Homo sapiens: one gene and its partners. The protein of the gene in region 3 purifies or fractionates together with the protein of the main gene of each other region. This does not show direct contact. Each region holds a gene or a part of one and is shown on either strand. Other genes may lie near its edges.

Region 1 (7,692 bases), on a different chromosome or scaffold from region 3:
GCAGAGAACATTTTTTTCATTTCCATGATTTAAATAATCTGTACAGACATGAAACTTAGTGACATTAAGCTTTAGTGTAAAATGAAGAGTAATAAGCAATTTTTTTTCACTTTGATAAAACAGCAGATTTCGTAAACTCCTTAAGGATCCAAGCATTTCCTCATCCCATATGCAAAATCATTCAGAATCCATTTTGACCTCAGTTGAAAAACAAAAACAAACACTTACTCTGTATATATTACACTATAAAACCCTGTACTTAAAAACTGATAAGGTGTATTTTCAACATGTATGCTTCAAATACAAAGATTTCAATCTACATTTAAAAAAACACATTTGAATGGACTCAGAACAAGTTTAATTTGTGATTAAACATCTCATGCAATCATGCAAGACCACTAGCTATAACTGTTACTTCCGAGTCTATACTGGGCAAAACAAAAGCAAATTAAGAGCCAGGCCAAACAGAAAAGACATTCAAGATATCAAGAGCTCTGTAATTGAGCTGAAAAATGATTTTCCAAAAGAAATATTCCCATAGATTAAAAAAAAACACACACATAATATTTACAAAAAAATATTTAATTAAAAATATCTTATAATTACAGTATCTATTAAAGCATATACTTTCTCACACTTATAGAACATCTCTATATATACATGGTATGAAATGTCACTCATTTATCTATACAATATGTAACATTCTTGCAGAGAAAAGAAAGTTCTCTGCCCCGTTATAATCATCTATTTTAAACAATAGATGTAAAAAAAAAATATCTACAATGCTCTGGTAGATTAGTAAAGCTTCAAAACAAAAATTGAGCTCCTTGGTCACAAAGTAGGCTTCTAAAGTCGGATCTACTCTTGATCTTCTATTTATCAGTCCTGTCACACTTAAGCTTAAAAGTTTAACTGCACCTCCAAAAAACACAGAAATGTACAATTCACAGCAGTTATAAATGAAGAGACAAAAGAGAATACGTATGTAGAATGTTTATGAACGTGCAAAGAAAGAATGAAAGTTGTATTTTTCTTTCCTCTCTCTCTCTTGGAATGACGAATGAAAACGTTTCTAGGTTGGCCGATGTTTTTTCCTTTCCTCCGGTGGCTTTTTTTCTCTAACTTCTGCTCTTCCCCCTCCCTCTCTAGTGCTCCTGGCTCGGGCTCAGGCGGCCGCACACCTGTGGAAGAGGAATGAATAGAGGGGGTGTGTGAACCTTCTCGCTGCAGACTAACTGGCGCCACCGACCAAACTCAAGACATGCTTGATCAACAACCCAAAACAAACCACCAGGTCAGACAACACCCGCCCGCGGCCGGGCCAGGCGCCGAGCAGGCAGCTGCGGCCCTCGGGAAGCCCGGAGAGGGGACCCACTCCGGCGCCCTGCCCGCGTCCCCCTTTGTGGGTGACAGACTGCACGGGAGGACACCGGGGCAGCTCCCATGCCCACGAGGGTGCCCTCCCTCGGGAACTAGGGAAGGCAGAAGAGCCCGCTGACCACCAGAAAAAACACGGGGACGGCGGGGACAAGGGCTGACCCGTCTCCACCGAGACTGAACCTCGAGTTCTAAGGCTAAGTACGGGTTTACTTGCTACTTAGGTGGCAGGGAGAGAGGGGATTTACTTCCTTGGGAGTTTGCTCTCAGAAACGCTGGGGGCAAAGAACACCGCGGTGCCTGGCCCCGGAAGCCCTCGGGGACGGGCGTCTCTGGTGACCGGCCACCCGAGACGGGAAATGCGCGCTCACCTGGACAGCGCGGCTCAGCGGCACAGAATGCTGTCGCCCTGCTTGTTCACCGCGCCGGCCTGGAACAGCAACCGAACACCAAGGGAAAGGTTAGCAGGCGCAAACAACGCGCTCGACACGGTCCTGGATTGTCCTCGGAAATCAGGCTGGCGCGCCGACGCCCCCACCCCAGCCTGTAGCCGGGGGGGCCCCTCCGGGCTCAGGCGGGACTTGACAGCCCAGGGCGCCCACAGCCCCGAGTCCCGCCCTGCGCGTTCTCCCGGACCCGCGCTCGCCGAGCCCGGCCGGCTGCTGGCGGCCCGGGGGAGCCCGGAGGAGCAGGGGGAGGGGGCTGTCATTCCTGGCCCGCCCCTGCCCGGAGGACGGTGAGCGCCCGCGTCCCGCCACCACGCCACCAACCTCCCATCCCCCGCGGCGTCCGCCCACGGCCGGCGCCCGGCCTCTCACCGGGTCGGTGTTGAGCGCAGTGAGCGGGGTCCGCGGCGGCGCGGCTGGACAGGTCCCGGCCGGGTGGTGTGGCGGCGCGGGCGGTGGTGGCTGCCTCAGCAGGGCCGGGTGCGTCTCCAGCGCCAGCTGCAGGTCCAGGATGTAGTCGATAACGTGCTGCAGGATCTCCACTTTGCTGACTTTCTTGTTGGGCGGGATGGTGGGCACCAGCCTCCGCAGGCGGCTATAGCAGTCGTTCATATCGCACTGCAGGCACAGCGCCGGCTCGTCGGCCGCCGCCTCGGCCGCCTTACAGCGCGCTGCCGCCGCCGCCGCCGCCGCGGCTGCGGAGCCACCCAGGCTGTGGCCGTGCTCGGCCAGGCAGCGCAGCGCCAGCTCCCCGCCGCCGCAGCCCGACGGCGCCTTGCGGCCCGAGGGGCGCACCGGGCTCACCGCCTTCATCGCGCGCGCCCTGCGCTCTACGCGAGCGAACCCGCTGGGGCGAGCGAGGGAGGCAGGCAAGCTCCGGGCCCCGTCCGCGGCCGGCTCCGCTCCCTTTGCCTCCGCGCCCGGCGCGCTCGGGGCACCGCGACACTCCCGAGCCCAACAATTGACGGGAGGGTCGCTCTGGGTTTTACGAGGGAATCTTTGCTCAGTGGGCGACACTCAGCCCGAGCCCAAAGGAAAAAAAAAGCAAAAGCACCGGAAGAAAAGTAGCCCACCCGGGTGTCCTAGTCACTCCCTTCGGAGCTCCGACTAAGCCCGATCGCGGCCGCCGCGCTCCCCTAGCCCGGGATCACCCCACTCCCGGTACTACTCACAACCGCGCCTCCTCCACTACGCTCTCGCCCGGCCCGCCGCGCAGCTGTATTTATAGAGCCGTGCGCCCCGGGGGCGGGACCAGCGCGCGGGCCGGGTCGCAGCGCGAGCCGAGCGGAGCCCGCTGGGCGCGCGGGCGGGGGCGCGGAGGGAGAGGCGAGGGCGGGGGCTCCGGGCGGTGCTGGGGGGCGGGGAGTCCGGCTACCCGAGTGGAGGAGTGGGCGGGGGGTCTGGAGTGGCCAGCCAATCAGGCGGGCAGTGCCACCTCGGGGAATGACGCTCGGGCCAATGGGAAGGGCACTCCATTCCGTCAACGCTGTGGGTCGGGGTTCTGAGAAAAGAGAGCTGAGTGGGAGTCGGGCCAGGCTGATGTGTGCCCAAGGGAGGGGAAAAGAGAGAGCGAAGTTCCTGCGAAGAACTGCGGGAATGTGCGGCCGGAATTCACTCTCCACCGCCCCCCTTATCCCGACTAGGCTGCTGAGGGAGCGCCTGGGCCCTGCTCGCGGATACCCTGCCACTCCTAATAGCACGGCGCCCAGGGACCCTCCGCCACCCATCACTCCATCCGTGGGATTCCAGTGCCTTAAGAAAGACGCGCTGTTCAAGAAGGCACGTTCATTCTGTTCTATATTTCCCTCCTCCGTTTCATTATTCGCCTTTTCACATTTGCCGAAACCATAATGATGGAATGGAATGTGTAGCCTTTCCGTTTTCTTTTTAAAAAATGCTAAAGCTTAGCAAAAGTAGAAAAAAAAAGAAGGAAAAGAATGCCGAATCGAATGCAGGTTTTTGGTGAAGGGAATATAAATAAAACAAAAACGTGGGGGGGGTTCTTTTACCCCATCTAAATGCAAAAGTGGGCTCAAGAAATGCAGTTGCCTTGCGCATTCAATTAGAGCACGTAAAGATTAAAAATGCATGGACACGGAATATTTAAAATTCCATTATGACATATAATATTAATCTGTTTTATGTAAAATTCATACCTGTAACTTAATTTAGGCCATTAATGCACAGCTTCACGTATTAGTCAGCGTACCCCGCTTTAAATAAGGTGATGAGAATGTCCAGAGTCGCCTCCTTTGACAGCAAAGCATTAAAATTCACACTTCCAGTCTCTGGGATCCCGCTTGGGCCCCACCCTGCAAAAAAAAGCCTGTTAATTAAGGGCGTTTTTGTGTTAGATTTCTTAGAGAAAAGCTGTCCTTCAAGGGTTCAAAATAAAATTGCACAATGAGCTTTGGTGGAGCATTGTGTGTACCCTTCAAGAAAAAATTGAGCCCTTCAGATGAGAAAGGTGCATAAAAATTCTCAGACAATGGGGAAATGAATTTTGAGTGCCTTCACTCTACAAACCCTCCCACCTTTAGACACGCTTGGAGATGAATTAACCCAAGAATTTTCTTCATTCGTGTACATGACATGGATTGGTGTCTTCATTTTCATAGATAATTGAAAGAAAGAGACATGGACCTCATTTCTTCCTGTCTACCCCTATATGGACTTTTTCTACATCCATTCCCAGAACTGAAATACCTGCACCAGGCAGATATTTTGTTTAGCTATGTCAGTGCTTTATGACTATCGCACTATTCCCCAGAGCACATTCCTTTCTCCTGATGAAATGAGGAGCAACTATTTAATTCTGGTTTCACAGGTAGATGCAATAACCCTCCTCTCCCCTAATCCTTGTATGTTACTGCTTCTAATAATTGTTTGGAAACAAGTGCCATTCTCATTTATTTATGTGCATACGTAGATGGTCTACATACACATTAATCGAGAAAATCAGAATTATGAAACTCAGAAGGGCTTTCTTCTAAAGACAGGCATAGTCATATACATCATTAAATTAATGCAAATACAGAGAAAATGTTGTAATTTTAAATGGGAAGTCGGTGAAGCCAGCACTACTGGTTGTAAGCTATTATCTTGGAGCCAGTCATATGAGCACAGACGATAATAATAAATGGATATATGTACAGATGTTTTGTTCCATTGATCTTTCTCTTTCCTAGAGTTTAAAATTTGCTTCCAAATTCAAAACCCAAGACTTTCCTCTGTTTGGCAAAATAAAACTATGCTAATATGCCCAGGACACACTTACATTTAAACATTTTACATATCCTAACGATTAAAATTAAAATTTAAGTTTTGAATACGTAACACAAAGGAAGAATCATATCGACCTTTTTGGAATTTGCTAAATCTCAGAAAGCCATGCCTTGGGTGTGACAAGCGCCAAATGCCTAAGTTTCAGGTTTTGTTGGAGATGCTCTGTGTGACTGGCTTAAAGTTAGAAAGACTGAGTTACTCTGTGTGGGGTGGGGTGGAAGAGGTGGTTTCAAAGGAATGTACCTCAGCCACAAGATCAAGAATACCCAGGAAAGATGTGATCCGTAAATCCTGCTAGCAGAGTAGGCAGAGGCAGTTACTGTGCTCCTTGTTTTGAAGGTTGGAAGGCATGAAGACATTAAAAAATTAAAGTGCTACCATATACTATGGGAATAAGGAATACAATCCTGCACGTTTTGGTCCATGAAACCAGAGAGTACTAGGGGCTATGCAATGTATGTTTTTGTATTCTTAGACATAGACACTTACATGACATCAAAGCTGCAATCATGGAAGATTCCTGGCACTGATAATTCAAAACAGTTTACCCAATTATCACTCAGATTTTGGATAAACCTTACAAGCTATGTTATTTCTACTGTGCAGAGAAGGTAACTTAGTCTGTTGGTGACTCTTTTACATCAAAGTGTTTCACTTGCACTTGTAAAAGTAAAATGGGCTAACCCAAATCCTTTTGTCATGGAAATGCTCGAGACTCCCAAAATATACCTCAGTAGGAACCTAGAATGAAACATTCATAGGAGAATTGCTAGAAAGCCGTGATGACCAGAGTCATGGATACACCCTTCCTCCAGACAAAGAGGTCTGCTGTCCTCCCTGAGATGTATTCTAGCTACTAAATCAGGCCCTCACTGAACTGCAACACCCAGGCCTTTAGAAGTCATAGTCACCCTGTGTTTACATGAAGCAAGGGTATGGAAGCATATTGTGCTCTTCATTCCCAGTGCCTTTTTAGGACTTGATACTTGTTTCTCCATAGCCTCCAGGGAAACAGTGAGTGTACTCATACACAGATAAACGTGAATGTTCCAATGCCTTGGTCACTCTGTAGATTTGTCGTCACAGAAAGAGGCACATGCATTCTTTGAGGGCATAAGAAACCACTATGTACTCTGCAGCAGGACTGTCCCTTGCTCCCAAAGAGTAAGTTGGGCAATGTGGCAATTCAAGCTCAAGGCTGCTTTATCAGGCACTAAGTGTTACAAAATTACTTGTGCTACCCTTGGATTGCTGATACTAGTCCCGGAAATGCTGATAACCCCTTAGTTTGCTAGGTCCTGGAAAAGGCTTGTAGGAAGAGGACGTTGTACGTTGAACATGGCTGGGCAGATGTGGCTGTCAAAAATGCCTTGTTTGGGGAGTTTTAAAGGTAGTTGGTTTAAATAAGAAGTGACTTTTTGAAAGCCCCCCTTAGATTAAAAGACAGAAAAATGGGGAGAAATAAGTGGAATTTGTTTTTACCTTAGGAGATATAAACAGCATGGACTCTGAAGTGAGACAGCCTAAGCCCCAATTTTGGCCTCTTTGCTTATTAGTTTTATATCATTCAGCTGGGTTCTTAAATTCCTATACCTTTCATATTTGGAATGATTAAAATTGCATTTACTTCATAAGGTGTTTATGAGATACACATATTATATATATGGTCTCTGTAAAAGAAATTCAGTAAAGTTCTTAGAACAGTGGTTGGCACATAAGTGGGCAAACCATGTTACAATGTATTACCATTTTTGGCAAATATCTCTCAGTCTGTGGACTGACTTTTCATTTACTTCACAATCTTCTTTTAGAGCAGAAGTTTTGATTTTTTTTTTTTTTGAGACAGAATTTCACTCTTGTTGCCCAGGCTGGAGTGCAATAGCATGATCTTGTCTCACTGCAACCTCCGCCTTCCAGGTTCAAGCAATTCTCCTGCCTCAGCCTCCCAAGTAGCTGGGATTACAGGCGCCCACCACCACACCTGGCTAGTTATGTATTTTTAGTAGATATGGTGTTTCACCATGTTGTTCAGTCTGGTCTTGAACTCCTGACCTCAGGTGATCTGCCCACCTTGGCCTCCCAAAGTGCTGGGATTACAGGTGTGAGCCACCATGCCCACCCTAAATTTTGTTGGTGTCTAGTTTATCAGTTTGTTCCTTTATGGCTCATATTTTTGATATTGGATCTATCTAAGAAATCTTTCATAGCTCAGGTAACAAAGGTTTTCTCATAGGTTTTCTTCTAGAATTTTTATATTTCTTAGGTAGGGTTGCTTGCATGGTGTGTAGCTTATGCAGTCACACAGGGTCCTGCACTCAGAAGAGCTGTATGCTTGGGTTAGTGCTCTTGCCTTCTTGAAATTCTTAGTAATTTTTGAACAAGGGAACCTGCATTTTCATTTTGCATTAGGACCCACAAATTATGTCTCCAGTCTTTGTTTTCTGTTTTATGTGTAGGTCTATGATCCATTTTGAGGTTATTTTTGTATGTGGTGCAAGATATGGGTTGAAATTAATATTTTGCATTTGTAGATCCAATTGTTTCAGCACTCTGTCGAAAAGTCTACCTGTTTTCCAAAGAATTG
Region 2 (6,821 bases), on a different chromosome or scaffold from region 3:
GAGCCCCTCTCCTCCACGTCCTCCCCAGAGCCTCACTGACCTTCCATCTCTGGGCCTTGCCTCTCCTCCTTTCCTGGATCTCATGTGGCCCCTCACCAGCCACAGAGCCCCTTCCTCAGGCCCCATCAATGGCCCCTCAGCCAACAGGACCAGTTTCCCAGAAGAGACTGCGGGCTTTGCCCAAGGCCACATAGCAAGTGAGAAGCCACCCCTCCTTGGTCTCAGCCATTTCTAGGATAACAGAAAATGTGGACAATGAAAGGCTGGGCAGGACCAAGGGCACTAGGGGCATCAGAGGAGTCTCGCCCCATGACATCCAGGCTAGAAGAGGCCTTGGAAGTCCCCCAGCCCAGCCCTCAGCCCCTAGACGAGGCTGAGGCCCAGGTCAGGTGGCAAGTCAGTGCAGCCACCCCATGCCTGCAATGCCTCCTTTCCGTGGCTGCCAAAGGACATGACCCCCTGGGTGCGGGCACACATAGAGTTGGAGCTTTGCCCCTTGGGGGAAGGGTCTGGATGCAGTTGCCCCACACGGGCCCAGCCCCTCTCCAGAGGCTGTCCCGCTCGGCAATATCATCTCTCCTGGGGGGATTTCCTGGGCACAGGACATTGCTCAGGTCTCCAGCCTATGGGGGAGCAGACGGTTTCAGGCAGGACATGTTCCGGTGTGGAAGTGACCAGCCTAGAGTCACAGAACCCAGTGGCAGCAGAGTTGCCATCACCTACACCTCTGGTCCCCTTCAGCCACGTAGTCTGCCCCAGCATGTGTGTGTGCCTCTGTGTGCCTGGGTGGACAGGGCTCGTCTCGTACCTGTACGTGGCCACCTCCAGGCTGAGGGACATCTTGAGGTGCGCCAGCTGCTGCCGACCTTCCAGGACCTGAGCGATCTGGCTCTGTAGGCCCTGTTTCTCCTGCTCCAGGGCCTCCACAGCCAGCTGCAGGGCAGGCGAGAGGCAGTCAGTGGAGGGGCTGGGGTCCCTTCTGTGAACCAACCTGCCTCCTGCCCGCTGCCGCTGCCCGGGAAGCACCTCCTGCTCCCTGGCTGACTTATCTGTGTAGCAGACCCCCGCCTCCCCTACCCTATTCCCTGCCCAGAGAGCCCCCTCTGGATCAGCCAAGATGAGCCCAGGGCCCCTGTCAGCACTCTCAGCTCTCTCCCATGGCCTGCTCCTCCTCTGAGGATGCTGATTAAATGGTAGCACATGTTGCTCAGAACACAGCTCCCACAGGAAGGGGAGGTGAGGGAGGAGACGAGATGGGTTATGGAGAGAGAAGAGGGGGAAAAAAAAGCGAAAGCAGAAGGAAAAACGATTAATCAAGATGCCTGGAGCCTGCAGGACTGGAAGGCAAACAGCCCCCGTCCCCCGTTGGTCCCATCTCCCACAACTGTCTCCTGCTCCTCACAGCAGGCTCTCACCCCCGCCCCACCCCCATTTCCCACATGTTCTGGATTCTGTCTCCTCTGAGAGGAGGGATGGGGAGGTGGCCATGGCACCTCTGTGTGGCCCAGGCAAGAAGCTGTTTTCTCAGCTGCTGGTCACATCTGTGCCCTGTGAGAAGGAGCAGCTGTTATGGGCCTCTGGAATGTGCTCCAGGGAGCCGAGAAGCCATGACATGGGAGGGGGCTGGTAGCCATTCATTCACGGCCCCTCACTCCTCCCCTCAGGAGAAGGAGGGCTGTGAGGAACTTGGTGATTCTGAGTGGCCAGGCCACCAGATTCAGCGCAGAGGCGACAGTGCTGGGTGTCCTCCTAGTAATACCAGAGCCTGGGAAGGGACCCGGAGCCCCGGTCATCATCAGAGCCAGAAGGTGCCATCCAGAGAGTGGCGGGGCTGCTGCAACGGGTCTTGGGCCTGACTGCCCACCCGGGATGTGCTTCGAGAAGCCCCACCATTCGCATCCTACACTAGACGGGCTGTAAAAGTCTAGGACTTGTGGCACCAGGTTTCTGAGAACTGGCTCCTGATTCAGCAGCCAGCTAGCCCCACTCCCTTCCCAGAAGGTCTCTGAGCTTCATAAGGGACTTTCTGGAGCTTTCTGGGACTTTCTCTCACCCAGGCCCTCAACCTCCTCACCTGGAACTTTTCAGTAGCCCGCAGCCGCTCCTGCCAGCGGCCCTCCAACCTCTGTTCCAACGCTGCCCTGCGCTCCAGGAGGCCTCCGCGCTCAGCCTGGAGCTGCTGCAGCTCCAGGCGGCCCTCGCGGGCACCCTGCACCGCCCGGCCCAGCCGCTCGCGGGCCTGGCCCAGCGACGTCTCCATGTGTGCCACGCGCTCCTGGTAGCCGCGCACTGCCCCGCGCCACGCCTCGCCCAGTCGCCTTGCCAGCTCCTCTACCTCCGGGGCCGGCGCGGGAGGCCCGCGGGGCGGCGCGGGGCAGCGGGGGGCACAGGCAGCCTGCGCGTTCAGGCCGACGCGCTCCTCCTCGTGCGCCACGCGTAGAGCCTCTAGCTCGCGCTCCAGCTCTGCCACCTGGCTACTCAGCCAGGCCCGGGCGCATTTCTCTGCCTCGACGGCGCGCCGGTTGCGGGCTACCTCCTCCGTCGTCCGCTCCCGGGCCAGCCGCAGCTGCTGGCATCGGCCTGCCACGCCCTCCAGCTCTTCAGCCAGGTTGTCGCGCGCCACCTCGGCCGCGTGCTTCTCCCGCCAGCGTTGGTCAACGAGGGCCCGCAGGGCCGCCAGCTCGTCGTCGGCATGCGCCCGCCAGGAGGTGTCCGCGGATTGTGCCCGGAGCCCCCCGAGCTCCGCGCTGAGCAGCTCATTCTGCTCCTCCAGCGCCTTGACCCGGGCCAGGTAGGCCTCCAGGCGCCGATTGAGCTCCCACATCTGAAACGACTCCTCCCCCATGCAGCCCTCCATCCTGCTCGTCTGACCCACTGAGGATGGACAGACGCGGGGCACCGGGAGAAGGGAGCGGCTCGCAGAGCTTTTAGGACGGAAGAGAAAAGAGACCGACGGGGACAATGACGGGGCGGGGCGGGGTGGGAGTAGCCTGAGCGACTGAGAGTCGGGAGTGGGAGCGAGGCTATTCATACTCCCGCCAGGCGGGCGGGAAGAGGGGCGGGACCCAGGCCTTAACCCCTTAGAGGTCAGAGAGTGGCAGCAGCCTCTGTTCCTGCTTCCCCAGGGTGCTGGAGAGTGGAACCAAAGAAGAAGCTGTACCATGGAGAATCGGATCTGATGGTGGTGGCTTTCTGAGGGAGGAGGCTGTGAAGAAGGGTCACAATCCCCGAAAAAGGCAGATAATGCACAGAACTGAGCCTGTGGGGGTGGGAGTACCAGGACGTTCCAGCCTGGGAGGGAGTGCAGTCTCAGTTACTCAACACATCCGAGAGAGGTATCACTTACTGAATTCCTCTAAGACTCAGTTTCCTCATCCATAAAATGTGAGCAATGATGGAAATCGCATGGCTGCTGAAAAAAATGGATGTGGCCAGGTTTTTGTTTTTCGTTTTTGAAATAGCAAATGCTCCTCCTCCTGAAATACTGGAGAGAGTACTACAGCATTGCAGAAAGAAGCTAGAGAGACGCTGCCTGGAAAACAAGAACAAATGTCTGATATTAGGACACACGGATACACACACACACACACACACACACACACACGCACACACGCTATTGCCTGAGTCTCCATCAGAAAAGGGAGCGACCAGGTTAAGGGCCGTCATGGGCTTAAGAACGTTTGTCCATCCTTCCTACAAGTCTTCTGTATAACTGCGAGGTTCAAACATCCGCTTTAGGAAGTTCTGTTCTTGGGGAAGGGCCCCTTCTCCCGCACCCCCTGCCAGGGAATGTTGGGTAGTGGACGCCCTCTGGCGGCTTTCAGAAGTGGAAGCAGCAGGAAGAGGCCATTCTTTTCCTTCCTAACGACTAGCCCAAGTTTATCCAGCCTTTATGATGTGCCCAGTCGTGTTCCAATATTTTACTTCCATGATCTGACTTAATCTTCAAAACAACCTTTTAAAGATTCTACAGTTTATGAAGTAGAGAGCTCACCAAGGGTGAGAGTAGTAGGGAAGGCTTTCTGGACGGAGTGCATCCTTGAGCTGGGAGGTAAAGGACAGGTGGGATTTGGGGGATTTACAGTGAAGGAGAAGTAGGGCTGGGGAGGAGATGCAGGGATAATGAGACGGAGGGGATCTTTGGGGAAGGCGTTTCTGATCAAGCTGCTAAATCCAATTTAGCTCAAGTGTTAATTGAGTACCTACTATGTGTCAGCACCAAAGAGATTGCAGGAACTCTGTCCCAGCCCTGGAAATGCTTATAGTTTGGTGATGTGAGGTCAACAGTGATGGGCACTCATAGTCTGTTGGTGGAGGTAAACATAAAAAGATGACTACAATACTTAATCAGCCTCCAAGGTGCTGGGGACAGAGCCAGGCAGCACAGAGGATGGAGAGGGTTTTCTGAGTAGAGGGTACAGCCGGGTCAATAACCAGGAAGTCATCCCTCCAATATCCCCTCCCCTTGAGGAGTCTCTCAAGGACCCCATCCCTGTCCCCAGGCCAATGGGGCTTTGGAATTCACCACCAATATGTAGAATAGAGGCCAGGGAGGGGTTAGTGACAGGACATTGACTGAGAGTCAGTGCAGGCCGGGAGGCTGAGGATCTGGGATGCCCAGGCTCCTTCAACCTTGCATTACCTCATAAATCCTGCTGTTTGGTTTGGGCTGAGGGCTCCCCAGAGTTGTGGCCAGCAGAGCTTGCTTGGAATCTCCTCCTCTCTTTCTTTTATTTTTATTTTTATCTTTGAGAGGGAGTCTTGCTCTGTTGCCCAGGCTGGAGTGCAGTGATGTGATCTCGGCTCACTGCAACCTTCGCCTCCCCGGTTCAAGTGATTCTCCTGCCTCAGCCTCCCAAGTAGCTGGGATTTCAGATGCCTGCCACCATGCCAGGCTAATTTTTGTATTTTTAGTAGAGATGGGGTTTCACCATGTTGGCCAGGCTGGTTTGAACTCCTGACTTCAGGTGATCCACCCGCCTTGGCCTCCTAAAGTGCTGGGATTACAGGCATGAGCCACTGCACCCGACCTCCTTCTTTCTTTCACTTTCTGTCTGGGAGGAGAGGGATGCTAAATGTTTGAGATCCCCTGGGATTCTTGGGGGCGGTCCCCTAAAGAGGTAGGGTGGCATTGGGCTGGGGGTTCCTCTCTGAACCCCTCACCCTCACCCAAAGGGGAGACATTTGGAACTGTGTCTCATGCAAAGATTAGCTGACTTTTGCACTTTCTAACTGAATGACATTGGACAAATCACATAACTTCTCTAAGTGAGCCTGAGTTTACCTATTTGGCAAAGCAGGTTAATACCCACCTATCCCTATAAGTTTGTTCTGATAATCAAATAAGACCAGGTATAGGGAAGTCTTTGTATAAAGCCTTTTTTGAGGACCGTCACAATGAAAGCCATTAAGCTAAAGAAAACCTCCTCTTGTGAATCACTCTTGTGAGTTTTAGGAATTATGGGGAATAGAGATTGTTAAGAATTCTGGGGAAGAGTGTGGTGTTGATTTTCCTAAAACAGGAGATGGTAGGTTCCAGCATTCACAACCTAGAGGATCTGACGTCAGTGCTTACCAGATTCTAAACAGATACCTGATATTTGAGGTACTTAGAGAAATAAGGCCCTCCCTAGAGAAACTTAGGCCCTCCCTTCATCTCCTTCCCTGGTGACTGCATTTAGTTACTGGGATGTTTGTGGGGCCATTGGCCGTACCTTTTATTGGGTCTCTGGACCCAGGACATATGAACTATGTGGTACTACAGCTGGTGGATACAAAGTCAGCCCAGCAGTCATCCCCAGAGATGGCCATGAGCAAGCTTAGTGGGTTCTGTGTGCTGCCCCGAGGGAACCTGTCCTTGGTCCTGACAATTAAAAGTTTTAATTAAAGACTTGAATGAAAACATGGAAGCCATGTTTATCAGATCTACAGACTATGCAAGAACTGAGAGTTATATTTTAGCAAAATAGAAAAAAAAAACAGATGACATTTAATAGGGATAAGTGTAAAATTCTGCTTTTGGTTTCAAAAAATCAACAGCATAAGAAGAGGAGAATAAAGACCGGCTGAAGAGTAGGGAGTGTCTAGCAAAGAAGAAAGAGCTGGGGGTTTTAGAAGACTACAAGCTTGTTAGGAAGAAACCAATACTGGGTGGCTGTCTAAAAAAGTGAAAAGGATAAAAGTGACTATAGATTCAAGGTGTCCAGATGAGCAATGGCAACACTCCCATTGCCCTCCACATCTGGAGTGTTGTACTGGACACTATATTTTAAAAGGGACCTTGATGGATTGGAGTTAATCCCAGAAGAAGATGACCAGATGGTAAGGGATCTTGGAATAATGTTTTTGTATTTTTAATTTTTAAATTTTTTAAAATTTTATTTATTTATTTTGGAGACAGTCTCGCTCCATCACCTGGGCTGGAGTGTAGTGGCGTGATCTCGGCTTACTGCAACCTCTGCCTCCCCGGTTCAAGTGATTCTCAGTCTCCCGAGTAGCTGGCACTACAGGCTTGTGCCACCATGCCCAGCTAATTTTTTGTGTTTTTTTTAGTAGAGACGGGGTTTTCACCATGTTCGCCAGGCTGATCTCGAACTCCTGGCCTCAAGTGATCTACCTGCCTCAGCCTCCCAAAGTGCTGGGATTACAGGCGTGAGCCACCACACCCGTCCCAGAGTGTTTGATAAAGACTTTCTGAATGAACTTGTGTCTAAGCTCTGAAACTAAAAATAATGGCCTCTGAGTAGCACACACACAGCCTAAAGGAAATTGCCAGCCCCCACCCTGAAGGCCTTCTCCCCACCGAAGTCTGCATTAGAGAA
Region 3 (6,843 bases):
CAGTCAGCGGGCTCCTCCTTTACCTTCTATTCTTTATGGCTACTCTCCGCCCTTGCTGGGTGACCCTTCGTCCTGAGGGCTAGCCTGCGTTCTGTTCACTCTGTTTCTCTCCTCTCTCTCTTCTCTCCGTTCTTCTATACCCTTTTCTTTCTTCTATTTTTCATAGTTGAAAGAGTATAATCATCGTCTATCCGGCCCTCAGTTCTGCTTTATCAGCTGTGGCTGAAACTGCTTTCTTTGAATCTGACTATGTAACCAAATTCCCCAGCTATCACCCACACAAATCTCTTCCCTAGTCTCTGACAGTCATCTATGTCTGTTTCTTCCTTGAGCTTTTTCTGACTGTCACCATCATCCTGTTACTTTCCAAAGGCTTTTCAAAAAGCTTGAACTTTGTTCCCTAGAAATGCCACCACAATACCTCAGGAACTTCTGTTCCCAAACCATCCTTTTCTCAAGCTTCCTGTTCAGGAGTGACTTTACTGTTACACACTCTTAGAGAACTACATTCCTTTCTTTCAAAGTTCCTAATTCGGTTATTCATTTGTGTGACTTTTAATTAGTATCTTGTTCCCCAGTAAACTGGAAATTTAATGAGGGTATAAATACATTAAGCTCTGCTACTAGAGCGACTAGTTTCAATATTTTCACCTTGATTAACACAAATCCCCAAATTTTTCAGAAACATCTTTCTCACCAAATCTAGGTTTTTCAGTGAATTCACTATGATTCTTTCCATCAGAGGCCTTACAAATTGAGTAGGAGAATTAATATTTGCTGAGTGCATATTTCATACCATGGGCTCAAAATATATTATTTAATTTAGTGTGAAAAGAAAGCCTATGATATGTGTAATGTATATGCTTTTTGATCTCTAATAAAACTGTGGCTAGAAACACATACTTAAGAATGGCTAGAACACAGATTCTGTCTTTCCCCAAAGGTCTCTTCTCTTTCTACCATATATGCAACATTTCCAAAGGCTCATAGCTAAAATCCACTGATGTGAGCTAGCCATAATACTTTCCTTCCCACTTCTTCCCACAGAAAAGAATTGGGAGGCACTCAGGCTTTTTTGGGGGGAAAAAATCATTTGCAAATGAATAAGCATGAAGTAAGAACAACAGGGTGGTAAACCACATGAAAACTTCCCATCCTGTCACTAATCTAGTTTCAGATTTTATGATGAATGAAGTCTAGTCCCCTTGGAGTGATTTTATTAATGATAATATTATTATTCCCCTATTATCATTTACTTTTTCCATAATTAAAAAAATATTTGGACTATTTAAAGCTTGGAGGATTGCAGTTTATGTAAAACTGATTTGACCACTTGTCAAGGTCTGTGTCTCCAAGTTCTACTGAGAAGTGATATAATTGCAATTACAGGCATCTCATATTTTGTAAACAGTTTGAGTTCCAAGAGTTCACTAGTTAGAAGTTTGGCATCAGTGCGTATTTTCCCATTGACCTAATCTAATAAAGGGTGATTATTTCCCAAGCTGGCATTTCCTTGTTTTCTCCTCCCACCTCCTGCCCTCAACTCCCAAAACAACCACAAAAAAGGGGAAAAATCTGTTTAAACCAGGGTAAACACTCCCACTAATTTTACTGGTCTGAGGTCTAGAGCGTGTTGGAAAAGGGGATTCATAATTTAATAAGGAAGAATTCAATAGGTGAAAGTTGACTTTATACCAGTAAAAGCCACCCTTGCCTAAGAAGTTGCTCCTGATCTGCACCCCAAAGCTTTATATACTTTTTTAAAAAAATAATTCTCTTTCTACATTTCTAAACTGGCTCTTTCTCCAGTGGTGACACTTGAATGAAAGAAACAGAAAAAGGAAAAGGCGAACTTCCATATTTTTTAGCGGGTTCATGATATGAAGGCTCTCTAACATCTATCTGATACCTCTTAAAATCAGTGGCAAGTCTAAGAATGGTAACACCTTAAATGTATTTCTTCACCCAGGCTTCAAAATTGCTTAGTAGTGATATTTTTCTCCCTTATTTTTCTCTGAACATACTAATTCCAATAATAAAAGTACTTTTAGAGAGGATGCTACATTTTTGAGGTGGGTTTCATGTTTTTAAAAGTTTAATTTTTATAACATCCTGTAAATATGGACATCTTTTGTCATTATGCCAATGTTACGGATTAAACATCTGAGAATTTGAGATAGTAGAGTTCATTAAATCCTCACAGGCCCCAAAAGACTATAATCTAGGCCTTCCCCATCCCAATTCCAAGGCTATTTCTCCCATTTGGTCTGTTAATTTAACTCACCTCTTTAGATTCAGACTCCATGAGAAGAGAGATTTTTTTTAATGCTTTATCCTTAGCACCTAGGACACTATCTGGCACTTAGTAGGTACCCAATAAATGCTGAATAAAAAAAATTAGTCATTTTTATCTTAATGTTCTTAATGATTTTTATCACAATAATCTTAGTTAACTTTTCAAATTGTCTTCACATTTACAAGAGACAACATAAAGTGTGGTTAAGAGCACAAGCTAATTTTCTATAATAGATGTTAGATTATACCCTGAGTTGCTGAAACTTTCAATCTGCAGTTTTAATTGCTGACTTGAGCAACCAAGAAACTGGCGAAAATAGAAAAAAAAAAGTCACAGAAGAAGTATTGGCCTCTTGCAACTCTTCTCTCTCCTTCTTACCATTCCAAAAATCTAAGAATAGTATTAAACTTGATAAGGAATAAAAACAGCCAAAAATATCAAAGCTTAACATCCAGTCTGTGGCTCAATAGAAACTGTGAAGAATCATCTTCTAGAATAGGCGACTTGATTAGCTAATTTCTAAATTATCTGACAGTTGATTTCCTGCATTATCTTCACTCTATTCATTTTTTAAAATAAAGTCATAAAGAACACAGCTTATAATCATTACTGCTTGGGGTAGAGCAATAAGATTTTATGTTCCCACATAGTTTTTGAGGCACTGACTATAAAGACCAAAACCAAGGTCAACTGACATCCCAAAGGCCAGTTACAGCTAGGAAGTCTTTCTAGAGCTCTAGGAGGAAAGGTGAAAGGAAGGGAAAGAACAACAAAACAGAGAGAGGGAAGAAAAAGAAAAACCTCTCCAACAGCTATGCTTTATTTCATTCATAGGAATGAGTCTTTGCCCTAACATGGCTTTATACTACAAATGATAACTACTGTTCATCAAGCAGCTATGTGCTATGTGTTTCACATGCATGGTATCATTTGATTGAATCCTCACTAAAACTGTAAGGAAACCACTATCATCTTGAAGACATCAAGATCTAGTACTTACCCATGGATATATACATAGAAATTAACCTTGCTAGGACTTGATAGTTCTTTGGAATCTAGGGCCCCCGCACTTGACCTTCATATTGTACTGTCTCCCGAAGAACAATACATGTATCTTGTGGACCATGGGCAAGCTGCAATTTAAAAAATGCTGTTTCCTTGCTCGTGCCTTGGTTGCTAACCTTTCTCACTTAAATCCTATCAAACAACTTATTTGGAGTCAATGGATAGTGAGAATGCAAAAGAAAAAGTGGTGAGCACACAGTGTGCAGAACTGGAATCATAAGAGAGGCACCTTGGAGGGGGCCACAAGTAAATGCTGAAATATCAAGTAGCTGTGGTGTGAGTCTTGTTTTCACTAAAACTATTTTTAAGGAGGAGTTACTACATGTATTGTAACCCCATCCTCTATCCCACTCCCTACCTCATATGTAATACTGCTCCACAAATGGAAGGGTACAGAATTCAGATCCTGGTTGCCCCTCTCCCCAAAGGAAAAAAAAAAAAAAAAGATAGTCAAGGACGGTCTCTATGGAAGGACCCAGAGAATCATTTCATCCAGTATCATGGGATGTGAGCACCCTTCAGCAACCCCCTCCATTTCCCAAATCATCTTGCAGCCTTAGTAAAAGAGAGGAAAGAGATTTACCTGCTTCTATTGAGGTTGAAGCCTGAAAGTCATGTATAACCTTTGAAGCACTGTAATGGTTTTAATCACAGGAATAGCATCTTTTTGAGAGGCAGGAGAGAGAAAGGAGCTGAACCACTCTGCAAATATTAACCCGGCTATTTTGGAGCAATGGCTATTGCCTTTGAAATCTTTCATCATGGGTCTATACTTAGAATTCAGATGAGCGCAGGGGGAGGGGAATAGGGCAATGTTAATCCCCAGTTGTTTTGAAGTTGTCCTGTAAGCAGGTTAGTATCTAAACTGCCCAAAATGGAAGGGTTCAATGCTTTGTTTAAGTTATGTGATTCTCTCTGTGTAACCTGGTCTGCACATAGATTGTCACAACACTCTGGGAGGTGACACTTCTCAGTTTTCTTTCAAACTAGATGTTCTAGAGAGCACTAGCTGCAATCACATTGGGAGACTGATGCTCCATGACAGCTAAAAGTTGGATTGAGTTTCAGGAGCTACTATATATAAAGCTGGGTCGACTTATGTCACTGCACTAATTAAATGCCATCTGGGTGGTTCCTCTGGGTTTTTGAGTCCATCACCCAGTTCAGATCGAGTCAGAGGCCAAGGAGGAGAACATGATGATGGACCTTTTTGAAACTGGCTCCTATTTCTTCTACTTGGATGGGGAAAATGTTACTCTGCAGCCATTAGAAGTGGCAGAAGGCTCTCCTTTGTATCCAGGGAGTGATGGTACCTTGTCCCCCTGCCAGGACCAAATGCCCCCGGAAGCGGGGAGCGACAGCAGCGGAGAGGAACATGTCCTGGCGCCCCCGGGCCTGCAGCCTCCACACTGCCCCGGCCAGTGTCTGATCTGGGCTTGCAAGACCTGCAAGAGAAAATCTGCCCCCACTGACCGGCGAAAAGCCGCCACCCTGCGCGAAAGGAGGAGGCTAAAGAAAATCAACGAGGCCTTCGAGGCACTGAAGCGGCGAACTGTGGCCAACCCCAACCAGAGGCTGCCCAAGGTGGAGATTCTGCGGAGCGCCATCAGCTATATTGAGCGGCTGCAGGACCTGCTGCACCGGCTGGATCAGCAGGAGAAGATGCAGGAGCTGGGGGTGGACCCCTTCAGCTACAGACCCAAACAAGAAAATGTAAGCCTAGATGCTGCCGGGGCAGGGAAATGCGAAGGCTGATTAAACGCCTTCCGCGGGGCCTTAACCTCCAGCTGCTTGGTCTTTTTTCCCTTCCCCCTTTCTCGCCCGCCCCTCCCGCTCCGTCTCTAATGAACCCCCAGTGACCCAAGAAGACCGGGTGCTTGCAATAGGCAGGAAATGCGTACCCGGCCCGAGGAAGCAGGAAAGCCGCCCCCCACCCCACCCCAACCCCGGAACCGATGTTTCTTTCCTAATCTGCCGCTGCCTTGGTTTTCCCTCCAGCTTGAGGGTGCGGATTTCCTGCGCACCTGCAGCTCCCAGTGGCCAAGTGTTTCCGATCATTCCAGGGGGCTCGTGATAACGGCTAAGGAAGGTAAAGTAAAAGGGCTCTGGGCCGCACCAGAGAAAATCCGGGAGGTGGATAGGATGCTTGGGCCGAGAGGGCTCGAAGCGAGAGCAGGGACGCGCCCTGCGAAAAGGGCGCTCTTTGCGCGCCGGGACCAGGCCTTTCCTCGCTGCCAAAGCGGCCTCGCGCGGGGCGCGGAGCTGCTTCGTGTTCCTTCTTTGGGTGCTATGTTTGTGTGTTGTTTTTTCGCTCAGGAGGAGCAAGTATTGATTCGTCAGCCTCGAGTAGCCTTCGATGCCTTTCTTCCATCGTGGACAGTATTTCCTCGGAGGAACGCAAACTCCCCTGCGTGGAGGAAGTGGTGGAGAAGTAACTGAGCCTGCGCTTGAGACCTTCTCCACGCAGCAGGAAGATCCCACCGACCCTTCCTGGCCTAATCCTTTAGATTAGGTCACATTACATTAACATTTAGGAACCCAGACCGAAAAGTTGCTGAAAGGGAAGGAGACACATTCACAAAGAAACGTTGCGAAAATTGCGAAATCTGTTGTGCATGCTCAAATGAAAACGCCTTTCGGCTTTGGGCTTTTATTTTTTTGGAACTGCGAGTGGCTTAGGTCTAGCCTCATTTTGTTTTTGTTTGGTTGGTTTTATACTATATTAACTTTTATTACGGTGATCCTTTTGTGCCATGTTCAAAAGAAGTTCATTCCTGTCTAAAGTGGGAAAGTTGCATTTAATGTTAGGGGTATTTAATGTATTTTTGTAAATAGTTTAACACTTTCTTTTTTTACGTAAACCTGAAATATATTTTAAATGTGGAATGATGTATATAAAATGTGCGAGGATCCTGGTATTGTAATATTAAAAAGAAGTTTCTATATGAACAAAGTTGGTCCTAATTTGATGGAACTGGAAAAATATGTTTGGAGGCATGTGTACAAAAATAAAGAGGAGCCATATTTTAATTTAGACACCACACAAGCCCATTTATTTGGGTGTTTCCTTACATGCCAATTGAAAGGAAATTTGGCTTTCCTTAGTCTGAATTAAACTGGATACTGTTCTCTCTCTCGTAGACCTCACACTTGTCATTGGAAGTGAATAGTGCCCAGAAGAAAAATGTCATTTTTCCTTTTATCAGCATCTTTTTCCGTCTGGTTTTACACTCCTATACCTGGAGATCTGGGTGAGATTTACTTACCCAAAGTTAACAATGGAATTTTCAATCTAGGAAAATATGGTTGCAAGAAATTACCACACCAAAACTGTGCTCATTTCCCAAAAAGATCTTCAGCGGATTTACCCACAAACGGCCTTCCCTCTTAGCCTTCCCAGGCCGCTCTTGTCCTGAAGTGTGGATCTGGAGTTCCCGGGGCTGCATCCGGCATCCTCAGGGCCGGATCTCGGGCCCCCTCCC
Region 4 (7,402 bases), on a different chromosome or scaffold from region 3:
GAATTTCCTTTTGGAGGTTTCTGTCTTCTAGCTTTAGGCTAGTAGGCTGGATGAGATGATTTCCAGACCTCCTGTAGGGCTGTCAGTCTGAGCCTTTGCTGTATGTCCTGGTAGGTGTAGCCAGTGCATCAGCGAACATGGTCACTGCCTTGTCCTCCTTGTCCTGACCACAAGGGCTTTTCAGTTCACTGACTCTGGTTTGTCTCTGTGCTTTTCCTTGGCTACATGAGGATATATCCAGTGCTCCCTTTGCATGCAGGGCATTTCCAGAGGCTGTTTAAGGTCTGCTGCCTAGATGCCCTCTCCCCTTCTTCTGCTTCCTCTCTATGATGGGCATGGGAGAAACACCGAGGTCTTGCAGGTTTCCTGGGCTACCCTTGGGAAAGAGCAGCACAGCTTCTGCTCTGGAGAACTATGCCCCCCTCCACTGACTTAACCAGAAGAGACAGAGCCTAGGTCCCCTCCCTGGAGATCCACAAGACCTAAACCCTCTTATTCCCATTCTTCTCCTCTATCTCCCAAGTTTGGGGAAATTTTCTTTAGTGTCTAGAGCAAGAGAAACTGACTCTTGGAGCATATAATATATTTTAAATCTTTTGCCTGCCTTGCCAGGTCCTTGGGTTTTTTTCACCTGAAAGCTAAGAATGAACTCTTTTGTTCTCTGTGTTATGCTGTGTCATCCTTTCCCTGAAGTGGGAAGATGGAATGCCCTGGCTGCCTGGGCTGAAGGAAGGTCACAGGGAACAATGAGGAAAAACCCTGTGAATATCTTGACATTCTGTTAATCACAAATGCTTGGGTTCTGTGTGTCATCCCCAGCTAGAACTCCACTACAATTTTTGGGAGGCGTTCTATTATTTTTTAGTACTTTATAATTAGTTGATGGATATATTTAGTAGGTTAACCTGAAATTAGCTAATTAAATCATTTGGCATATCTCCTCTATGATATCAAAACATCCCTCTTTAGCTTCTTAAATTCTAATCTGCTATTTATTCAACTCCACTCATTCATTCAGTATTTATCACCTACCTAGTGTCAGCTACTGTGGTTTTTACTGGAGGAAAGTATGAGACAAACAAATAATCCCTTCAGAGGAACTACTGACTCACATGTGGGGGAAAAATAATCCCTTCTCTCAAGATGCTTTTGTTGTGGTGGGAATGCAGACAAATCACCCCAAAATTCTAAAGAATGATAAGAGTTATAATAGTGAAATGCATAGAAAAGGGGGCAAAGGAGAGAAGGCCATTAGCTCTGGCTGGCAAAGAAAGAAAGATCTTCACAGAAGAGATGACTCTTGAGTTGGGTCTTGAAGAATGGGTCTTGAAATAGTGAAGGATGAGGAAATGCAAGTTGTGGGGCAGTGGGAAGAAAAGGCAGTTGGGGAGAGGAAGGAGCTGGTGAAGCCCCATAAAAACATGAACATGTACTAAGGGAACAGGGAGACTGTGTGGAAGTGAGAGTAGGGGAATGAGGAGCAAAAATAAAATAGGCAGAAAGAGTAGAGCGTTGCGCTTTAGGAAGTCTATCTCTCTCTCTCTCTCCCCCTCTCGATGGAATCTGGCTCTGTTTCCCAGGCTGGAGTACAGTGACGCTATCTTGGCTCACTGCAACCTCCGCCTCCTGGGTTTAAGTGATTCTCCTGCCTGGACCTCCTGAGTAGCTGGAACTACAGGCACCCGCCACCACGCCTGGCTACTTTTTTGTATTTTTAGTAGAGATGGGATTTCACCATGTTGGCCAGGCTGGTCTCTAACTACTGACTTCAAGTGATCTGCCTGCCTAGGCCTCCCAAAGTGCTGTAATTACAGATGTGGAGCCACCAACCCTGGCCCTCTTACTGTTTTCTAAATTTAAGTGATCAAATATATAACTGGGAACTTTTCATGCGCATGTAATTTTGTAAAGCTCTGCAAGTGATACAATGGTGGTAAGAAACTAATAGCTTACCATCTAGTTCATGTGTGTACTAAGTAAAATAGATGTATGAATGATTATAAAACAATTTGTATAAAACATATTAATGCTAGAGTATAACAATTTTATTTGCAGGATAAGAGAGATTAATAACACAGTAGAAAACAATCTACAATCTCAGTGGCTTAGTGGAACAAAAGTTTATTTCTTACTCCTGAGGAGTCTGCTGTAGGCCTGGGAGATTCTCCAGGACAGATGTCTGATGTGTGTTGGCTCAGCCTTTGGGGCTGCTTTGGTTACAAGGGGCTGCTTTGGTTACAAGGCGCCTCTACCTGGACATGTCTCCATGATGGCCACTGGAGAGAAGAGTGGGCAGGAGCCTCGACTACTGGCAATTAAATGCTTCTACCCAAGTCACTTCTGTTCACATTTCACTGTCAAAACAAGTCATATGATTGTGGCTAACTTCAAGGAGGGCAGGAAAGGACTATCTGCCCATGTGTGAGGATTCAGAGAGGATCAGACAGTAAAAATGCTCAGTAGCATTCAGTAAGATAAACCTAACAGGGCTGGGTGCAGTGGCTCATGCCTGTAATCCCAGCATTTTGGGAGGCTGAGCTGGGCGGACTGCCTGAGATCACCCCGTCTCTACTAAAAATACAAAAAAATTTGCCAAGCATGGTGGTGTGCACCTGTAATCCCAGCTACTTGGGAGGCTGAGGCAGGGGAATTGCTTGAACCACGGAGGTGGAGGTTTCAGTGAACCGAGATCGCACCACTGCACTCCAGCCTGGGCGACAGAACGAGACTCCGTCTCAGAAAACAAAAACAAAAACAAAAACAAAAACAAAAAAAATAACAATAGAAAGAATGAGGGGCATTCTCAAGCAGAAAGCAATCATACTTAGCATGTCATGTAATAAAAGACAATTCTGTTTTTCTGTCAATCAGTGAAAGGGTGTTCTTTGTTACTTCACTTTATTATGCCAGTAGTAACTGGCCTGCTGGAGCTATTAATTCAATCCTAGCTCCCAAGCTGGTTGATTTCGTAGAGTCTACAAGACTTCCATGCTTTCTCCATATCTTTGTTCCTTTCTTTTATGTCTCAGATATGTAGCCTAAGGAAATGGGATCTGTGTAACAGAGTTTCTGGGAAGGTTCTAGAAGGTCTCAGTCTACCTTCCAAGAACTTTTCATTGCTTCTTTGAAGACATGGGTCTTTTTGAACAAAGGTTTTTTAAGTGGTTCAACCAAATGACTTAACCTAATCAATTAGTAATGTCTCCATCTTGGAACTTAGATACCTATTAATAAGAGAGCCATCAGAGTGCAACCAGAAATTCAGCATAAGAACAATGGCAGTTGGTTATATTGATCTTAAATAAATAGAAGGGAAAAAGTGGTCCCAGGGCTTTATAAAAAGTGAGAACTCATTAAACTAAAAACCAAGAAACCCGAGTTTTCATTCTTCTTGTAAGCACTTAGGAGAAAGTCAGGAACTTCTGTGTCTTTCTTATTTATTTTGTCTTTACTTCTTACCCAATTCTTAATTATCATTCGGTATGAGTAAAAAGGGAGAATACTTGTCTACCTGTCTTAAAATTACAATGATCAAATTATTCCAAACTTTTTTTTAGTTCTTTGGAAATATGTATTACCACATATATATAAAAGAACAAGAAATCTCTACATTAGCTCTCAACTGGGGATATAACATAAATAAAACATAACTTTTCCATATTTTAAGAAGTTGGCTGCTTTAATAACTAGGAAGATTCAAGCTGTCGATATTATGTTTTAAAGTGAAATTTGGAACTGGAATTTATAATATTGTGATTGAAAACACGAGCGTTTTTTGAGATTATTAGGAAAGATAATTCAGAAATTAATGTGTAGGCTTTAGAAGGAACTGAAACCAAGCAAATACTGTTAAAAAAAAATCCCAGTTCTCCACTGCGAGTGGCCCCCTCTCTAGGGGGCAGCAGAGACGCCCGGGAGGAGACGGAGATCGCGGCGACTCAAGAGAGGCCAAGTGGGTCCGGGCAGTGCCCGCGCCAGGCTCTGAGCTGCAGCCCCAAGGGCGGGGGTCGAAGGAAGAGGCGAAGAGGCGGAGAGGCGGCTTCACGGATAAGCTTTTGCAGGCGACGCTCTCCGCCCGCCGGACGGGAGGCGGAGTAGCAGCCCGATTAAAGAAGCAGCCTGGAAGGAAGGAAGGAAGGAGCGAGGGAGGGACGGGAACGGCAGGAGGAGGAGCAGCGAGCTGGGCTGCAGCTGCGGCGGGAGGAGGAGCGGCCCCCGCGAGGCCACGTTTTGTTTTTGTTATTTTCCACTGGAGTAGTTGCCGGAGCCTTTCCTGAGGACTGACCGCGCCGCAGCCCTGCAGCCCCGACCTTCCAGGTGACAGCCGGTCACCCTGGTAGGAGTCAGCTCCGCCCCAAGTCACCCCCTCCCGCCCACAGCCCCATTCCCCGCCCAGCCACCCAGTGTCTGCCCCAGGCGAGCGCGGCGGCCGCAGCGGGGCTGCAGCGCTGGAGCCGGCGGCCGCGGGGACCCTCGGCGTGGTCCTCTGACCCTGCAAACCCGCGACGGAGGAAGGGGAGGTCCTGCCCGAGGCGCCAGCCCAAGGAGGAGGATGCCCATTTAACCCGCCCTCGCCTGCCGGGCGCTTGCCTCGGTGCCCGCCGCCGGAGCCTCCGAGCCGCGCCCGTGGAAGTGCTGCATGGGGCAGGGCTGCTGAAGCGCGGAGTTCGGGGTCGCGCCGCTCCCAGGCAGGCGCGGGAGCCCGGTGCGGCAGTTGGCACAGTTTCGGCGGCGCCTTCTGCGCGGGAGTGGGGGGCGCGGTGCGCCCGGCCGGCCTCCGCGGTGCCCTGGTGAGGCGAGAGTTATGGAGCCGCCCAGCTGCATTCAGGATGAGCCGTTCCCGCACCCCCTGGAGCCCGAGCCGGGCGTCTCAGCTCAGCCCGGCCCCGGGAAGCCAAGCGATAAGCGGTTCCGGCTGTGGTACGTTGGGGGGTCGTGCCTGGACCACAGGACCACGCTGCCTATGCTGCCCTGGCTCATGGCCGAGATCCGCAGGCGCAGCCAGAAGCCCGAGGCGGGCGGCTGCGGGGCGCCGGCGGCCCGAGAGGTGATCCTGGTGCTCAGCGCGCCCTTCCTGCGTTGCGTCCCCGCGCCGGGCGCTGGGGCCTCGGGGGGCACTAGTCCGTCGGCCACGCAGCCCAACCCGGCGGTATTCATCTTCGAGCACAAGGCGCAGCATATCTCGCGCTTCATCCACAACAGCCACGACCTCACCTACTTTGCCTACCTGATCAAGGCGCAGCCCGACGACCCCGAGTCGCAGATGGCCTGCCACGTTTTCCGCGCCACAGACCCCAGCCAGGCAAGACAGGGGCTCGGAGGCGCGGGGGCGGGCTCGGCCTTGGGGGATCGGGGAGCAGGGCGGGAGGGGCGGGGACCCCACTTTAAGGACCGACTGAGGTTTGGCTGCAGGCGCGCGCGCTCCACGTGGCGCGCTCAAGCGCCGGCTGGCCCCTTCCCTGGACCTTGGGAGTGGGAGAGAAGGCGTTCGGGGGCTGGGCGAGCGGCGGGAGCGGCCGGCCGGCTACAGCAGGGACCCGGAGGGAAAAGGACAACGGTCCCGGGATGGAGGGGGAGCTGGCGCGTCCAAGGAGCACGCGTGGAGGAGCGCCCGTCCCGGGAGGACGGCGGTGTCTGGGGTGTGACCGGAGATGGCTTGCTTGCCGTGTGTGTGTGTGTGTGTGTGTGTGTGTGCGTGCGTGTGCGCGCGAGCGCGTGTATGAACGCAGAAGGTTGGGTTCCTAGAGGTCCTCACTAGTTCTCAATCGCAGTCAAATCCTTAACCGGTTTGGCTGGTCGCGTCATCTTCGCAGCAGCACCTGCAGGTCTCCGGTCTGGGAGGCAATTTCCGAGCGGGGCTTAGGGAAAAGTTACTAGACATCGTCAGATTGTCTGCAAAGAAGGATTCTACATTTGGATATTGAATGGAAAGAAGCCCTTTTTTTGCGGTTTTTAAACACACTTATTGGAGGCAGTGTAGTAGAACAGGTTTCTAATATCATTTTTTAAATGTTTTTTTCACTTTTGTTTTTAATATTTTTTTTCCAGAGTCTTCTAAATCTAATTACCAAACAGTAAACTTTACTTCCTTAAAAACAGATATGGTCCTTATGGAACAGGGAGAGGAGAACTTGACTATGCAGTGATTGTGTCTTTGAAAACAGAGTTTTCCCCCTTTAATTTGTAATGAGTTTTCTCCCCGCCATATCAAAAGCTTCCAAAATGCTGTTTTAAAAATGGTTATTTACTGTTTGCACAGTACTTTAGGTTCTTTGGAAAAATAGTGTTGTCTAAATATAAATAAAGTCTCAGGTTGCACCATGTGGCTTTCTTTTGGTAACTGGGAAATTAATCGTAGTCAGATGAGAAAAACATCCTATAAATATGGCTTTAATTTTTTTTATTTCACAATTCTTCTGTCTGTAATTGAAAGACTTAGTTCAACAGTTTTCACAAAAGGCTTGTAGTTGAATTGAAGAAAATAATAGTTCATTGTCTTAGATTTCATCAGTTACTTTGAAAAATAGGTTTTTTTTTTTTGAGACGGAGTCTTGCTCTGTCGCCCAGGCTGGAGCGCAGTGGTGCGATCTCGGCTCACTGCAACCTCCACCTTCCGGGTTCAAGTGATTCTCGTGCCTCAGCCTCCCCAGTAGCTGGCATTACAGGCACCCAACAATCAGAACTCCTAATGTGAAGTTATGTTTATGGCATAACTGTTATGTTTATGGCAAAATATCGTACTAAAATTATTTCAAGATCCTAACCACGATTTAATGAATTTCATTTTGTGAACATTTGTTCAAAACTTATTTTTAGCTTTCACATATGTTAAAATTGGAAAGTTTCTGAAAGCTATTACATTTTATTGTATTACATTTTTCTGGTTCTGGTGGTAAAGAGGAGCCAGTTGCATTTTTCCAGGACTTTAAGGAACTTTTCATGACTCTCGGGGGTTTCTGTTAAAGTTATTTCCCCCCAGCGACATCTGATGCATGACACATTGTTGCTAATCTCATTGATGGTCCTGGCACCTTTAGTTCTCAACAGCTGCTGTTGAGTTCCTCTTGGTCTCATTGGTAGGAAGTCAATTATAAACATTCCTTTATTTTCCTCCATTATATATTTAAGCGTTAGAGGCTGAACTATATAAATATTAATATGTTTAGGCTCACTTCCCCCTTTTAGTCCAGTGGGAGCAGTGGTAGTCATATGACTTTCTCATAAAAGTTCAAGAAAACCTCTAACTTTCCTGTTTATTGCCTTTTCCCAGATGAGTGTTTGATCTAAAGATATGAATTACTATTTGCTCTTAACCAAGAGATTTCCTGGCAGAGGGTTATTAATTTGAAGGGCCAGATGTAGCGTCTCTAGAGAGCATCTCCAGCCATTAATCGGTGGTTAC

Evidence for each region.
Region 1: the proteins of MYF6 (region 3) and ID4 purify together in Homo sapiens (affinity purification with mass spectrometry; 2 studies listed by BioGRID and IntAct, with this or other methods). This does not show direct contact.
Region 2: the proteins of MYF6 (region 3) and NES purify together in Homo sapiens (affinity purification with mass spectrometry; 2 studies listed by BioGRID and IntAct, with this or other methods). This does not show direct contact.
Region 4: the proteins of MYF6 (region 3) and TBC1D4 purify together in Homo sapiens (affinity purification with mass spectrometry; 2 studies listed by BioGRID and IntAct, with this or other methods). This does not show direct contact.

What each region holds. Positions count from the first base shown.
Region 1 is NC_000006.12:19,832,699-19,840,390, reverse strand, and holds the start of ID4 (DNA-binding protein inhibitor ID-4), read right to left. Parts: upstream 3,022-7,692; 5' UTR 2,637-3,021; coding exon 2,196-2,636; intron 1,808-2,195; coding exon 1,763-1,807; 3' UTR 1,749-1,762; intron 1,182-1,748; 3' UTR 1-1,181. UniProt on the Homo sapiens protein: Transcriptional regulator (lacking a basic DNA binding domain) which negatively regulates the basic helix-loop-helix (bHLH) transcription factors by forming heterodimers and inhibiting their DNA binding and transcriptional activity.
Region 2 is NC_000001.11:156,674,408-156,681,228, forward strand, and holds the start of NES (nestin), read right to left. Parts: upstream 3,001-6,821; 5' UTR 2,858-3,000; coding exon 2,075-2,857; intron 934-2,074; coding exon 809-933; intron 1-808. UniProt on the Homo sapiens protein: Required for brain and eye development.
Region 3 is NC_000012.12:80,703,165-80,710,007, forward strand, and holds MYF6 (myogenic factor 6), read left to right. Parts: upstream 1-4,469; 5' UTR 4,470-4,555; coding exon 4,556-5,074; intron 5,075-5,359; coding exon 5,360-5,450; intron 5,451-5,677; coding exon 5,678-5,796; 3' UTR 5,797-6,310; downstream 6,311-6,843. UniProt on the Homo sapiens protein: Involved in muscle differentiation (myogenic factor). Induces fibroblasts to differentiate into myoblasts. Probable sequence specific DNA-binding protein.
Region 4 is NC_000013.11:75,479,170-75,486,571, reverse strand, and holds the start of TBC1D4 (TBC1 domain family member 4), read left to right. Parts: upstream 1-4,402; 5' UTR 4,403-4,804; coding exon 4,805-5,302; intron 5,303-7,402.